4 linked regions of the Homo sapiens genome follow. The protein of the gene in region 4 interacts with the protein of the main gene of each other region in a pairwise test. Each region holds a gene or a part of one and is shown on either strand. Other genes may lie near its edges.

Region 1 (3,500 bases), on a different chromosome or scaffold from region 4:
CACCTGGTGAGGCCTCAGGCTGCTTCTGCTCATGGCAGAAGGCGAAAGGAGCTGGTGGGTGTGAAGCATGTGGCCAGAGGAAGGAGAGAGTGGGGGAGGCAAAAGTTTCTTTTAAACAACCAGATCCTGTGGGAACTAACAGCAAAAACTCGCACTTGGAGCAGGGCACCAAGCCGTTCACAAAGGATTCCCCCCATGATCCAAACACCTCCATTAATTGGGGATCAGATTTGAGCATGCGTTTGGAGGGATGGACATCCCAGCCGCAGCCCCGTGTGAACACCCAGGAGAAGGGAGTGGCCGGGCTGGACGGGAGGTGTGTTTGACTTTTAAAGAAACTGCCAAACTCCCCTTCCCCGGTGCTTGTGGTGTTTGCTTTCCTGCTGGGAAGGCGTGGGCACACCAGCTGGTCCGTGTCTTTCGGCACACCACACGGTGGAGCCAGCCCACGCGGTGGAGCCAGCCGTTTGAAAGGAGGTGCTGGAGCCCAGTCCCTGGTGAGAGGCCGCCTCCTGCAGGGCGCCTCCCATTCTGCGGCCTCTGGTTTTCTTAGCAGTATCTTTTGAGCCAACATTTTTAATTTTAATGAAGTCCAATAGATTCTTTTATGCTTCATTCTTTTTTGTCTCCCATCTAAGAAATCTTTGTTTATCCCAAGGTCAAAAAATTTTCTCCTGTATTTTATTTTTGGAATTTGTATAGTTTTAAAACTTAGTATGAACTCCCACCCCCCAAATGTCTGCTGGATCTGTAATGATATTCCTGCTTTCATTCCTGATTTTGACAATTTGTGTGTTTTTTTTTTGTTTTTTTTTTTTTTTGAGACAGCGTTTCGCTCTTGCCGCCCAGGCTGGAGTGCAATGGCGCGATCTCGGCTCACCGCAACCCCTGCCTCCCGGGTTCAAGCGATTCTCATGCCTCAGCCTCCCAAGTAGCTGGGACTACAGGCATGTGCCACCATGCCTGGGTAATTTTTATATTTTTAGTAGAGATGGGGTTTTACCATGTTGGCCAGGCTGATCTCAAACTCCTGACTTCGTGATCTGCCCGCCTCAGCCTCCCAAAGTGCTGGGATTACAGGCGTGAGCCACTGTGCCTGGCCTGTCATTCTTTTTTTTTTTTTTTTTGGTTGGGGAGAGACAGCGTCTTGCTCTGCTGCCCAGGCTGGAGTGCAGTGGCACAATCTCGGCTCACTGCAACCTCCGCCTCCTGGGTTCAGGCGATTCTGCTGCCTCAGTCTCCCGTACCTGGGACTACAGGCCTGTGCCATCATGCTTGGTTAATTTTTGTATTTTTGGTAGAGAGGGGGTTTACACGATGTTGCCTAGGCTGGTCTTGAACTTCTGGGCTCAAGTGATCCTCCTGCCTTGGCCTCCCAAAGTGCTGGGATTACAGGCATGTGCCAACCACACCCGGCCTCATTCTTTTTGATAGGTGTAAAATATACTATTGCGTGGGTGTCACCCATAAATCATTTTACCAATCCCCATAGGAGGGACGTTGAGAGTTTTCAACTCCTTTTGCACCCTGGAGTCCAGAACCCACACGAGGTGGAGCTCTTCTGAGCTGTGCTGCAAGGACTGACCTTATTTTTTTATTTTTATTTTTTTGAGGCAGAGTCTCACTCTGTCACCCAAGCTGGAGTGCAGTGGTGCGATCTCGGCTCACTACTGCAGCCTCCGCCTCCCGGGTTCAAGCGATTCTCCTGCCTCAGCCTCCCAAGTAGCTGGAATTACAGACATGTGCCACCACGTCTGGCTAATTTTTGTATTTTTAGTAGAGACGGGGTTTCACCATGTTGGCCAGGCCGGTCTCAAACTCCTGACCTCAGGTGATCCACCTGCCTCAGCCTCCCCCAGTGCTGGGATTACAGGTGTGAGCAACCGCGCCCGGCCTGTTGTTCTTTCTTTGGGAGACAGTGTCTTGCTCTGCTGCCCAGGCTGGAGTGCAGTGGCATGGTCTTGGCTCGCTGCAGCCTCCACCTCCTGGGTTCAAGTGATTCTCCTGCCTCAGCTTCTCCAGTAGCTGGGATTACAGGCACCCGCCACCACACCCGGCTGATTTTTTCTATTTTAGTAGAGATGGGGTTTCACCGTGTTGCCCAGGCTGGTCTCGAACTCCTGAGTTCAGGCAATCCACCCACCTCGGCCTCCCAAAGTGTTAGGATTACAGGCGTGAGCCACTGCGCTCGGCTGACTGACCTTATTTTTGTCTTTAAATGCTTCGTACTTTGTAGGAAAAATAGCTAGAACATTAAAACTCGTTTTAATAGGTAACCTAAAAGCTTATGACAATTTGTACTTCCTCTGTTTTAAAGGTCTCCTTAGAAGTGTTAACTTTGCTTCCCTCGTAGGAGGCAGAGGGAGATTTCTTAGGATTGAGAATGTTGGTGGGAACACAGGGAATATTTTAAAACATTCTCAGATTCTTTTCGCCAGAAGGGAAGAACAGATTAGTGAGAAACCATCTTGGCATCTACCAGACCCCCGCTTGGTGCAGCTCTACCAGCTGAAGAGTCACTCACCGACACCACTGCCCATAGCGGGTGGGGAACCTCGGGGGTGAGGCGCGGTGGTCTTGAGCCTGTGCGTGGGCACCAGCAGCTTCTGTCAGAGCTCTGCCCTGAGGCCCTCCTGGTGCGGCTGCGGTAGAAGGGCCGGGGCTGTGTGGAGACCCCGCTGTTGCCGCCCTGTGTTTTCCTGCTAACTGTTGGCCCCGTGGCTGGGTTTGCATTCTCCTCCCCCCGCCCCCACCCCATCTGCCCTGGTCAGTGCTGGTCGGAAGGGAGACCATCTCCATCTCGAGAGGAGGTGACCAGCTGCCTGCCTGCAGGGGCTTGGGTGGCCTCCCCTGCTGCTGGTCCCTGTGCCCCTCCTCCCCGTGCTTGCTGTGAGGCTGCAGCTGTGGCGGTTTCTTTTCTGTGTCTCCTGCATTGCTGTTACCTCCATAATGTGAAATGTAAACCATGTGAATGAAAAGGAAGCTCCGTCCCTGTCGTCCTCTCCAGGCCGGTGCGGGAAGGCGGATGTGTGGCTCATCCCGGACGCTGGCTTCTCTTCCCTCTTCCACACGCGCACACCCGCCGGGCTCTGCTCACCTTGCCTTCTCAGCCTTGTCAGTCGGGCAGTGTCCTAAGGTTACCAGGAGGTGTTCTGAAGCATTTTTTGAGACGTGATGTCGCTGTCACCCAGGCTGGAGGGCAGTAGCACAGTCTTGGCTCACTGTAGCCTCGACCTGTGCTCAAGCGATCCTCCCACCTCAGCCCCCTGAGTAGCTGGGACCACAGGTGCCTGCCACCATGCCTGGCTAGTTTTTTGTATTTTTAGTAGACACAGGGTCTCGCCATGTTGTCCAGGCTGGTCTCAAACTCCAGGGCTCAAGTGATCCATCTGCCTTAGCCTCCCAAAGTGCTGGTATCACAGACGTGAGCCTCCGTGCCTGGTCTGCCATCCTGTGAAGTTCCCGTGATAAAGTGGTGCGTTTCTCTTGCAGGAGAAGTA
Region 2 (3,500 bases), on a different chromosome or scaffold from region 4:
AAGTATTTACTCTTAAGCACTTTCAAAATGCTATTTAAATACTCTTGCCTCAACAAGATTTTCTAGATTCAAATTAAGTATTCTGCCAAAAGCTGAATATGCCTGACAGAACTCTTAATGTATGGGAAATATTATTTTAATGAAATATTAACTAACCTACTTGTATTAAGGGAAAGATTAAATATATATCTGGATCCATATTTTTATGTGATAACTTTCTCCCCTTTTGTAAAAACCAAGATTCCCCCATTTTGTCTGATAGTTTACCAAGAAGAAGTTGACTCTACAATGTTTTCATGTTTAGGGTCACCCTGGAAAACCCGGACGACCTGGTGAGAGAGGAGTTGTTGGACCACAGGTGAGACTTTTTACATTGGTAGATAGCACAAACATCATAGGCCTATAAGATAGTTGCTAAAACTAGCATCAATCTAAATGACAACATAGATGTCACCCAAACTCATAACATGAATCGAAGGCATCTAATAAAGAAAAAAGCCTAGTTAAAAAAAAATGCATATACATTTTATTCATGCAAATAATGGAATATAAATGACAGCAAGCATACCATAAGCAACTAAATTGTGTTTTCTACAAATACCGTATTATTAGTTACTCACATTAGAGCAAGTTAATTTGTCACTCTGTGCTTAGAGGTATACTAGACTTTGGTTCAAAGCTTGAACTTTGATGAGAATAAATACTTTGGAGGGAAGAAGTCACTGTCTTTTTATTTATGGTAAAACATTATTCACCATCTTCTGTATTTCTTTCTAAGGGTGCTCGTGGTTTCCCTGGAACTCCTGGACTTCCTGGCTTCAAAGGCATTAGGGTGAGCACATTCTTTACTCAGAAGAGAGAAAATGCCTATTAATTTTTGGAAAAAACTCAAGTATGTTTAAAATCTTGGGTGACATATACTCACTTTCAAATCCCTGGAGTTTGCCAAAGGGAAGAAAGAGTTAAAGAGTCAGATTTCTTGAAAGTAAAGTGGGGTGCAATTTTTTCAGTCTGTTCATAGCTACCAAAAAACAGGCTCACTACAGAGAAAATTATATAGAACATGTATTACTTATTGAGTATTTACAACCGTCTGAAAATCATAAAATTATTAAGGATGGAAAAGATGTGAGAGAACACCTAGTCCTCCATCCTTCTCTCTCAATGGCAAGAAAGTTAAGTGACCTATCTAGGGCAATAGACTGAGTTTGCTGGGACCTGGAACACTGGACTTCTTTCTACTGCAGCAGACAAGACTTACCCAAGAGAGATTAATGGCAAAGATATACAATACAATTTTTATTTGACCAAACACTATCATGGAACAGCATTTTATAATAAGGCTTTCCTTTCAGGGACACAATGGTCTGGATGGATTGAAGGGACAGCCCGGTGCTCCTGGTGTGAAGGTAAATATTAAATTAGAAGCACTGTTTTTAAGCACTTGATTGAAATTCCCCATGACCTCCAAAAAAGTATATTATACTGAAGACTACCCATATTACAAAAAGTATTTTTATTTTTTTTCTTTCCTGTACTTCAAATCCCTCAAGGATGGGGACTATGAGAGTCTGTGAAAAAAGGTCAATTATTAATATTTATTAAAATTCAATATCTATTAAACAATTGAGATAAAAATAATATTAATAGTTTCTTGTTCCATTTCCTTTCCTCCCTCTATAATTCCAGTGTATCTCTGCAGCCAAAATAAAAGTAAATAAACATATAATCAGAGATTACGACACTCTGTATTATTTTAAACTGTAAATTCTCCTTTGCCACACACTAATTAGATAGGTACATTCATGTCGCTATACACTTTTCAACCTCTTTCCTGTGATTTATCTGTGCACACTCAAAAAAATTTTAATTAGGTAATTAAAGTCTCAGAAGTGTGTTATCTCTTGGCTAGGCTCTTCTCTGACAGCGTTTTCAACTATAAAATGTTCTCTTTCCTATTAAGGAGATAATGTGATATTAAAGTGAATACCAACGTAATTACAAATTAATGAGTAACGAATACTAGCGGGACCAGAAATGAACATGAATATGGAGAATCTATTCTAACTTTCCAGCTGCCACACAAATGGATAAGGTCAAACTCATTCTCCCAAGAGCCCGATATAACAGCTCAGACTACTAATCACTGTATCATAAAATGTTAGAGCTGCAAGGAGCTTTGGAGACCCCCTCATTTTGCAGAGGTGGGAAACTGAGGCTTCGTGAGAGCAATTGACTTGCCCAAAGTCACACATCTAGAGGTTAGAAAGTCATAGGCTAGAAATGATCCCCCCTTGCCACTTCAATGCTTATTCCCAAAGAATAGACTTCACATAGAATCCTGGAAATTAAGGGTCCTTATGAGGTCTCTTAAACCATATTTCCCCTATATCTAAATCAGATTATCTTTAAAAAAAGTTCTTTTACATGTGCCATAGTATTAAATCCCACTACTACTACTACTACTACCCTGGTTTTTACTCAGGATAAGAATATAGATTGGAAATAAATATGATGGCTCTAAAAAATACCATGAAGCTTCAATTTTTCATGCACATTTTATGAAAGTGATAACACTGAGTGTTCAAAATAACTTTAAAAAGGATAAATATGGTTACATTGAAAGCAAATTTATCCTTTGCCATCTCTTTTTATGATATTGTTTCTAGTATATAATTGATATCCTGAATCTAAGGGAGAAATTGGGGAGGAGGTACACTCAAATAACCACATCTCCTTAGAACCTGGATATGTGGTACTATCTGAATAAAAACTCATGTTAGCACATTTTAAAATCTGTGTGTCTGGCATAATTGAAAAACAATCTATATGTGTAAGAAATATTATGAAGTATATGAATGGTTCAAAGTAAAAAAAATAGAGTAAAATTGCACTATCAGGAAAAATAATTGTTATATTTAATGAACAAAAACTCAATCCTTCTCCATGTAGGGTGAACCTGGTGCCCCTGGTGAAAATGGAACTCCAGGTCAAACAGTAAGTATTGACTACTTCATTGTAAATTTAAATGTGTACACTCTTTATGAGATGGAACTTCTTTAATGTTTTTGCTAATCACTGTATCCTTCAGCATTGTATTCTTTGATGTTTTTCTAATAGCCTTCTGATACTTAATTGAAATCCACTACTGTTTAGTTGGAATTAGAAGGCAACTTATTTATTTTTAGTGTATTCTTGTACAGGTTGGAAACTGAACAAAGCAAATGATGCCTGTGACTTTTTTTAAATTAGCATTCTGGATTTTATTGAAAATATTTCTGCTTCTAGGGAGCCCGTGGGCTTCCTGGTGAGAGAGGACGTGTTGGTGCCCCTGGCCCAGCTGTAAGTGCTTCCATTTTTGTTCAGTTTCATCCTTTTAAAAAATCTTCTAATGGCTGTCATTTAAGTTTCCACCTGATCTTCCCTTTATTTTCTTCTTAGGGTGCCCGTGGCAGTGATGGAAGTGTGGGTCCCGTGGGTCCTGCTGTAAGTTTTGACAC
Region 3 (3,500 bases), on a different chromosome or scaffold from region 4:
GCCATATTCTCACGTTGACTTTATGCAAAGGTTATTGTTTAAGAGTTCCTTAAAGGATATTTTAATAGGTATTAGCATGATAAATTTGTTTTCAATTAGAACTGTATTAGGACTTTTTAAATTGTGCAGACACCTAGCCTGTATTAGCTTTTGCAAAAGGAAAAATGTTGGCTCACATAACTAAACTATGGGCAGGGAGGGTCTGGTCTAGGAACTATTGGATCCACAGACTACAAAGCTGTGAGGACCCCTTCAGTTTCTGTCTCTCTGTTTCTACTAGTTAGCCTCATTCATTCCCACTGTAGACCATCTTTTTTTACACACAGGACACAGGATTGCCAGCATTCCAAGATTTTAATGTCCCCAGCTCTGTCACCCAAATGGCAAGATGGTCCATCCAGGTTATTCCGGTTAGAGAAATCTAGGGAATGATTTCGATTACATAACCATAGCATAGTTATAAAAACCAGGAAATTAACATTGATGCCGTATTGTTAACTAACCTGTACATATTTTTCGAACCTTACATTTTTCCCTGTAGTTCTTCTGTTCCAGGGTCCCACACTGCATTTAGTTGTGTCTTCTTAGTCTTCTCCCGTCGATGACATTTCTTCAGTCTTTCCTTGTCTTCTTACAACCTTGACACTTTTAATGAGTACTGGTCAGTTTTGTGGAATGTCTCTCAGTTTGGATCTGTGATGTTTTCTCATGATTAGGTTGAGGTTATGCCTTTTTTCTAAGAACACCATGGATGTGATCTTGTGTCCTCAGTGCATCCTATCATAGATACAGGATGTCAATAACGTCTTATTATTAGTGAGGATAATCTTGATTATTTGGTTAAGATGATTCAGCATCCCACTGAAACTAGTGCTGGGTTCCTTCACTAGTAAAGTGACTATTTTTTCCTTTGTAATCGATAACTGTCTTGGCAGGAGAAGGAGGTACTTATGCTTATATCCTGTTTGTCCTTAAACATTCATCCACTAATTTTAGCATCCACTGCTAAAGAGGCACTAATTTTTTTAAAAACTGAGATATTACATACTATAAAATCCACCCTTATAAAGTATACAAATCAGTGGTTTTTAGTATATTAACAAGAGTATACAACCATTAGCACTGTGTAATTCCAGAACATTTTCCTCACCCTGAAAAGAAACCCTGTACCTATCAGCAGCCACTCATTCTATCCACCCCGTGGCACTCACTGCTCTGCTCTGTCTCTATGGATTTTCCTATGCTGGACGTTTCACGTGTGTATGGAGACATTAGAATATATGGCCTTTTGTGTCTGGCTTCTTCCACTTAGCATAGTGGTTTCAAGGTTGACCTGGGTTGTAGCATGTATCAGTGCTTCAGTCCTTGTTAGGGGTAAATAATATTTCATTGTGTGGACACATCCTATTTTGTTTCTTTTTCAGTTGATGGACATTTGGATTGTTTCCATCTTTTAGCTATAATGTGGTTATGAACATTTGTGTACAAGTTTTTGTCGAGGCATTAACTTTTAATTAGGAAACTTTGAAACAAAAATCTCAACACTGTACCTTGTTTTTTTCAAACTAAAATTGGAGTACTTATTACTTTTAAAAATCAACGTGTTGTCACTTTTAGAAATTGCATTTGGTGGTTTCTGGTGTGTTTGTTAATTTTTATAGTTTAGAAGGTGGTGATTTCCACAAACAGGAAAGTCTGTTGTGAAAAGACCAGCCCAGGTTGAGTAGCCCACTTGGATATCTCTGATTGCTCTCTGTAGTACGTTTAGCAGGATAGAAATTCTGTATGTTTCATCAGGTTTCTTTTTTCCTCATTTTTCCACTTCTTAAGATGAAGAAAGAGTCCAAACTGGAGAGAACACCCCAAAAAAATGTCCAAGGAAAAAGAAAAATTAGTCCATCTAAAAAGGAATCAGAATCTAAAAAGAGCAGGCCGACTTCCAAAAGGGACAGTTTGGCAAAGACAATAAAAAAGGAAACAGATGTGTTTTGGAAAAGCCTGGATTTCAAGGAGCAGGTGGCTGAGGAGACAAGTGGTGACAGCAAGGCTAGGAATTTGGCTGATGACAGCAGTGAAAACAAAGTGGAAAATTTGCTCTGGGTGGATAAATATAAGCCAACCTCGCTCAAGACCATAATTGGACAGCAAGGTGACCAGAGCTGTGCCAACAAACTCCTACGCTGGCTCCGAAACTGGCAAAAGAGTTCTTCCGAAGATAAAAAACACGGTGATTTTACAACCTCACTCATTTTTGTGTGTGTGTATATCAACATGTGATTGCTCAGTGGCACATATATGAGAAAATCTAACGATTCATTCATCTGTCAGCAAGCATTTATTAAGAGCTTGATCTGAACCCAGGTGCAGTACTAGACCCTGCTGGTGGTGTTGTGAACAAAACAGTCCCTCTCAGGAGCTCACAGGCAGTGGGGGAGGCATATCTGAACCAGCCATTAAAATATATTTGCCAAGTACTGCTAGAGGGGTAAGTCCAGGGTGCTGTGAGGATGAAGATGTGTGGTCAGGGCCAGGGTGTGTGTGCTCCCATCCCAGAGGAAGGGATGGCTAAGCTAAGACTTGGAAACAAAGTAGGAGCTAGCTAGGTGAAGGGAGGGAGAGATGAGTGTTGGGTAGGAAAGAGTATGTGTCCCAAGGTCTGAAGCCATGTGACAGCAAGACCCCTGAGTGGCAAGGGCACTAGGAGGAAAGCTGTGAATAAATAACAGAGGCATGCGTGCAGGGCAGTCAGCCTAAACTCCCAGTAGCAAGCACGATTTGCTGTGGCAGGCCCGATAGGCCTGTGCTTCTGTAGTTTCTGTCCTTGTTTATGATGTATTATTTGTCGTGGAGAGTGAAAAGCTCCAATATGTATTTAATGTCCAAAGTATTTTCTTAACTGAGCTTTGAGATCACAAATGTTTTAGTAGTGTTTTCAACATAGACCAGTGATGACTAGATTGCCAATCATCATTGCCAATGATGCCTGTTTATTTATAAAAATAATATATTGTAATGATACAGGACTAAATTTAAGTTAAATCACTTTTTTCATTCTGAAACTTCATAAAATCTCCCTTAAAAGAGGAGACAGGCATTTCATGTGCCTGGAGAAGACTGTTTTTTTTTTGTTTTGTTTTGTTTTGTTTTGAGACAGAGTCTTGCTCTGTTGCCCAGGCTGGAGTGCAGTGGTGCGATCTTGGCTCACTGCAACCTCTGCTTCCTGGGTTCAGGTGATTCTTCTGTCTCAGCCTCCTGAGCAGCTGAGACTACAGGTGCACACCACCATGCCTGGCTAATTTTTTGTAGTTTTAGTAGAGATGGGATTTCACCATGCTGGCCAGGCTGGTCTTGAACTCCTGACCTTGTGCTCTACCCGCCTTGGCCTCCCCAGGTGCTGAGATTACAGGCGTGAGCCACCGCACCCAGCCAAGAAGACTGTTTTAAAGCTTCGGGTGAACTCTAGTCCCTGTCTTCATGCCCGCTGGCAGTAGGTTGAAAAC
Region 4 (5,280 bases):
AAAGTGCTGGGATTACAGACATGAGCCACACTTCTTTTTTTTTTTTTTTTTTTTTTTTTTTCTTGAGACAGAGTCTTGCTCTGTTGCCCAGACTGGAGTACAGTTGCACAATCCCGGCTCCCTGCAACCTTTGCCTCCTGGGTTCAAGTGATCCTCAACCTCCTGAGTATCTGGAACTACAGGCATGTGCCACCACACCCTGCTAATTCTTGTATTTCTAGTAAAGATGGAATTTCACCACGCTGGCCAGGCTAGTCTTGAACTCCTGGCCTTAAGTGATCCGCCTGCCTCGGCCTCCCAAAGTGCTGGGATTTCAGTGTGAGCCACTGTGCCCGGTCTCTTTTTTTTTTTTTTTGAGACCTTGAGACCGGGCCTTGCTCTGTTACCCAAGCTGGAGTGCAGTGGCAGGATCATAGCTCACTGCAGCCTTGAACTTCTGGGCTCAAGCAATCCTCCCACATCAGCCTCCCAAGTACCTAGGACTGCAGATGCTTACCACCATGCCCAGCTAATTTTTCATGAATTTTTAATTATTGAAATTCAGACATCTAAGAAGATGCTGAGGACTGTCTCCATATTCCTGAAATTACGACTCACCTATTCACAAACCAGCCCTTCTAGTGGAATTAAAATATTATTTGATTTTGAATACCCTACTCTAAGGTAGGCACATTGCCCTGCAATTTATTATTTATGAGGTTTTTAATTATGGAATTGTTCAAATATTCACAAAAGTAGAGAGACTACAATGAACTCCAATGTAGCCATCACTCAGGCCCAACTGTTATCAGCACAGTCCAATCATGTTTTATCTTCCCTTCTCTGACCCCCAACCCATCCCCAGTCCTTATCTAAAATCAAATCTCAAACACCATATCTTTGGGAGCCTATTTATTTAGTTAGTTAGTTTTCAGACAGAGTTTCTTTCTTGTTGCCCAAGCTGGAGTACAATAGTGTAGTCTCGGCTCACAGCAATCTCCCCCTCCTTGGTTCAAGCAATTCTCCTGCCTCAGTCTCCCAAGAAGCTGGGATTATAGGCACCTGCCACCACATCCAGCTAATTCTTTTGTGTTTTTAGCAAAGACAGGGTTTCACCATGTTGGCCAGGCTGGTCTCGAACTCCTGACCTCAGGTGATCCGCCTGCCTCGGCCTCCCAAAGTGCTGGGATTACAGGCATGAGCCACCACGCCTGGCCGGCAGCCTATTTAAATGTCATCCTCAACATAGTCAATCCTTGGGCCATTTTTTCTTACAGTAAAATTTTGTCTCTTTCTTTTAATGCAGTTTCTACGTGGAATTTGGACACTTTGGCCTTCCAGGAACTGAAGTCCGAGCTAACTGAAGTTCCTGCTTCCCGAATTTTGAAGGAGAGCCCATCTGGCTATCTCAGGAGTGGAGAGGGAGACACCGGTATGAAGTTAAGTTTCTTCCCTTTTGTGCCCACGTGGTCTTTATTCATGTCTAGTGCTGTGTTCAGAGAATCAGTATAGGGTAAATGCCCACCCAAGGGGGAAATTAACTTCCCTGGGAGCAGAGGGAGGGGAGGAGAAGAGGAACAGAACTCTCTCTCTCTCTCTGTTCCCTTGTCAGAGCAGGTCTGCAGGAGTCAGCCTTTCCCTAACAAAGCCCTCTATCCTATCACCCACACTTGGGAGGCTGGGCTGGGCTGCACAGGGCAAGATGAGAGATGTGTTGATTTCATCCACTTGATTGTCATGTAGAATTAGATATACTTGAGAAGTTACATTTTTCAGTAGCGCCTTCATATCTTTATTTTAGGGACAGGTATACACCAAGCACCATCTCAGCCACAATCTGTTACTAACAGTATGTTTTCTGAACTTTGGCCACTTAGGAAAAGTACAGTTTGGCTCTCTCCAAAGTGTTCCCTGAAAGTCCAACTTTATGACTAATACTGTGATTTCCAGAAACTTTGACTATCCATGTTATTGACAATGATTACTAGCACTGAAGGGCATGCATGCAAGTAGGGGTTATGAAATATTTAAAACACGGTTCTCTAAGATATGAGCAGCAAAGTGTTTCTACCTTCTATGAGGGAACCGAAGGTGCCATTAAAAGTAGAGAAATCTGGACCAGGCATGGTGGCTCATGCCTGTAATCCCAGCACTTTGGGAGGCTGAGGCGGGCGGATCACTTGAGGTCAGGAGTTCAAGACCAGCCTGGCCAACATGGTGAAACACTGTCTCTACTAAAAATACAAAAATTAGCCAGGCATGGTGGCAGTCATCTGTAATCCCAGCTACTTGGGAGGCTGAGGCAGGAAAATTGCTTGAACCCAGGAGGCAGAGGTTGCAGTGAGCCGAGATCACACCACTGCCCTCCAGCCTGGGCGACAGAGTGAGACTCTGTCTCAAAAAAAAAAAAAATACAGACATCTGTTGTGATTCTGGTAACTCTAAATTTTCAACCGTCTCTTCACTACATTTAAAAAATTATTTTCTAAACCAAATTAGCCAGGTGTGGTAGCAGGCACCTGTAGTCCCAGCAACTCAGGAGGCTGAGATGGGAGGGGTGCTTGAGCCTGGAAGGTCGAGGCTGCAGTGCACTGTGATTGCACCACTGCACTCCAGCCTAGGTAACAGTGCAAGACCCTGTCTCAAAAAATAATTATTTTCATGTTTATTATATTAAAATGATGTATGAAATATGTGACTCATCAGGGCTTGAAAAACTTTGTTGTATGGAGATTATTCTTATGAGTTGATTTTTCTCTCTCCTACCTTATAGTAATGAAATAAACCAGGCATGAAAGTCACAATAAGTAATACAATGAACACCCATGGGTCCCTGCCCAGCTTAAGTAGAATATTACAAATGCAGTTGAAGCCCTCTGTGCAACTTTCATCCTTACAACTGATACTGAGTGAATTGTACTTTAAATATTTTATAGCTCCCACTCCCATGCATGCCCCTCAGTGATAGCAATAATTGTCAATAACATGAAACACAGATTGATCATATAGCATTTACCATATATTTACTCTATACCAAGCACTTAACATATATAATTACATTTAAAATTTACAACAGCCCTACTACCCAAAACACTATTAGTATCCCCTTTTACAAATGCGATAACTGAGGCGTAGAGAGCTAAGTAACTTACTGAAAGTCACACAGCCAGCGGGTGGTAGAGCCTAGCTTTAAACCCAGACGATTTGTCTCCAGGGCTGTCACATCTACTGGCTCTGCCAAGCTTCCGCATGATCATTGTCTGTGTTTGGAAAGATTATGGATTAAGTGGTGCTTCGTTTTCTTTTCTGAATTTACCAGGATGTGGAGAACTAGTTTGGGTAGGAGAGCCTCTCACGCTGAGAACAGCAGAAACAATTACTGGCAAGTATGGTGTGTGGATGCGAGACCCCAAGCCCACCTACCCCTACACCCAGGAGACCACGTGGAGAATCGACACAGTTGGCACGGATGTCCGCCAGGTTTTTGAGTATGACCTCATCAGCCAGTTTATGCAGGGCTACCCTTCTAAGGTTCACATACTGCCTAGGCCACTGGAAAGCACGGGTGCTGTGGTGTACTCGGGGAGCCTCTATTTCCAGGGCGCTGAGTCCAGAACTGTCATAAGATATGAGCTGAATACCGAGACAGTGAAGGCTGAGAAGGAAATCCCTGGAGCTGGCTACCACGGACAGTTCCCGTATTCTTGGGGTGGCTACACGGACATTGACTTGGCTGTGGATGAAGCAGGCCTCTGGGTCATTTACAGCACCGATGAGGCCAAAGGTGCCATTGTCCTCTCCAAACTGAACCCAGAGAATCTGGAACTCGAACAAACCTGGGAGACAAACATCCGTAAGCAGTCAGTCGCCAATGCCTTCATCATCTGTGGCACCTTGTACACCGTCAGCAGCTACACCTCAGCAGATGCTACCGTCAACTTTGCTTATGACACAGGCACAGGTATCAGCAAGACCCTGACCATCCCATTCAAGAACCGCTATAAGTACAGCAGCATGATTGACTACAACCCCCTGGAGAAGAAGCTCTTTGCCTGGGACAACTTGAACATGGTCACTTATGACATCAAGCTCTCCAAGATGTGAAAAGCCTCCAAGCTGTACAGGCAATGGCAGAAGGAGATGCTCAGGGCTCCTGGGGGGAGCAGGCTGAAGGGAGAGCCAGCCAGCCAGGGCCCAGGCAGCTTTGACTGCTTTCCAAGTTTTCATTAATCCAGAAGGATGAACATGGTCACCATCTAACTATTCAGGAATTGTAGTCTGAGGGCGTAGACAATTTCATATAATAAATATCCTTTATCTTCTGTCAGCATTTATGGGATGTTTAATGACATAGTTCAAGTTTTCTTGTGATTTGGGGCAAAAGCTGTAAGGCATAATAGTTTCTTCCTGAAAACCATTGCTCTTGCATGTTACATGGTTACCACAAGCCACAATAAAAAGCATAACTTCTAAAGGAAGCAGAATAGCTCCTCTGGCCAGCATCGAATATAAGTAAGATGCATTTACTACAGTTGGCTTCTAATGCTTCAGATAGAATACAGTTGGGTCTCACATAACCCTTTACATTGTGAAATAAAATTTTCTTACCCAACGTTCTCTTCCTTGAACTTTGTGGGAATCTTTGCTTAAGAGAAGGATATAGATTCCAACCATCAGGTAATTCCTTCAGGTTGGGAGATGTGATTGCAGGATGTTAAAGGTGGTGTGTGTGTGTGTGTGTGTGTGTGTAACTGAGAGGCTTGTGCCTGGTTTTGAGGTGCTGCCCAGGATGACGCCAAGCAAATAGCAGCATCCACACTTTCCCACCTCCATCTCCTGGTGCTCTCGGCACTACCGGAGCAATCTTTCCATCTCTCCCCTGAACCCACCCTCTATTCACCCTAACTCCACTTCAGTTTGCTTTTGATTTTTTTTTTTTTTTTTTTTTTTTTTTGAGATGGAGTCTCGCTCTGTCACCCAGGCTGGAGTGCAGTGGCACGATCTCGGCTCACTGCAAGTTCCGCCTCCCAGGTTCACACCATTCTCCTGCCTCAGCCTCCCAAGTAGCTGGGACTACAGGCGCCTGCCACCACGCCTGGCTAATTTTTTTTTTTTCCAGTGAAGATGGGGTTTCACCATGTTAGCCAGGATGGTCTCGATCTCCTGACCTTGTCATCCACCCACCTTGGCCTCCCAAAGTGCTGGGATTACAGGCGTGAGCCACCACGCCCAGCCCCTCCACTTCAGTTTTTATCTGTCATCAGGGGTATGAATTTTATAAGCCACAACCTCAGGTGGAGA

What was found. Proteins that work in one complex are often made in the same cells at the same time.
Region 1: the proteins of MYOC (region 4) and HAGH interact in a two-hybrid assay, tested with the Homo sapiens proteins (one study listed by BioGRID).
Region 2: the proteins of MYOC (region 4) and COL1A2 interact in a two-hybrid assay, tested with the Homo sapiens proteins (one study listed by BioGRID).
Region 3: the proteins of MYOC (region 4) and RFC1 interact in a two-hybrid assay, tested with the Homo sapiens proteins (one study listed by BioGRID).

Annotation. Positions count from the first base shown.
Region 1 is NC_000016.10:1,809,826-1,813,325, reverse strand, and holds part of HAGH (hydroxyacylglutathione hydrolase, mitochondrial isoform 1 precursor), read left to right. Parts: intron 1-3,492; coding exon 3,493-3,500. UniProt on the Homo sapiens protein: Thiolesterase that catalyzes the hydrolysis of S-D-lactoyl-glutathione to form glutathione and D-lactic acid.
Region 2 is NC_000007.14:94,404,895-94,408,394, forward strand, and holds part of COL1A2 (collagen alpha-2(I) chain precursor), read left to right. Parts: intron 1-304; coding exon 305-358; intron 359-778; coding exon 779-832; intron 833-1,355; coding exon 1,356-1,409; intron 1,410-2,952; coding exon 2,953-2,997; intron 2,998-3,288; coding exon 3,289-3,342; intron 3,343-3,441; coding exon 3,442-3,486; intron 3,487-3,500. UniProt on the Homo sapiens protein: Type I collagen is a member of group I collagen (fibrillar forming collagen).
Region 3 is NC_000004.12:39,307,363-39,310,862, reverse strand, and holds part of RFC1 (replication factor C subunit 1), read left to right. Parts: intron 1-1,830; coding exon 1,831-2,227; intron 2,228-3,500. UniProt on the Homo sapiens protein: Subunit of the replication factor C (RFC) complex which acts during elongation of primed DNA templates by DNA polymerases delta and epsilon, and is necessary for ATP-dependent loading of proliferating cell nuclear antigen (PCNA) onto primed DNA.
Region 4 is NC_000001.11:171,634,728-171,640,007, reverse strand, and holds the end of MYOC (myocilin precursor), read left to right. Parts: intron 1-1,285; coding exon 1,286-1,411; intron 1,412-3,298; coding exon 3,299-4,083; 3' UTR 4,084-4,591; downstream 4,592-5,280. UniProt on the Homo sapiens protein: Secreted glycoprotein regulating the activation of different signaling pathways in adjacent cells to control different processes including cell adhesion, cell-matrix adhesion, cytoskeleton organization and cell migration.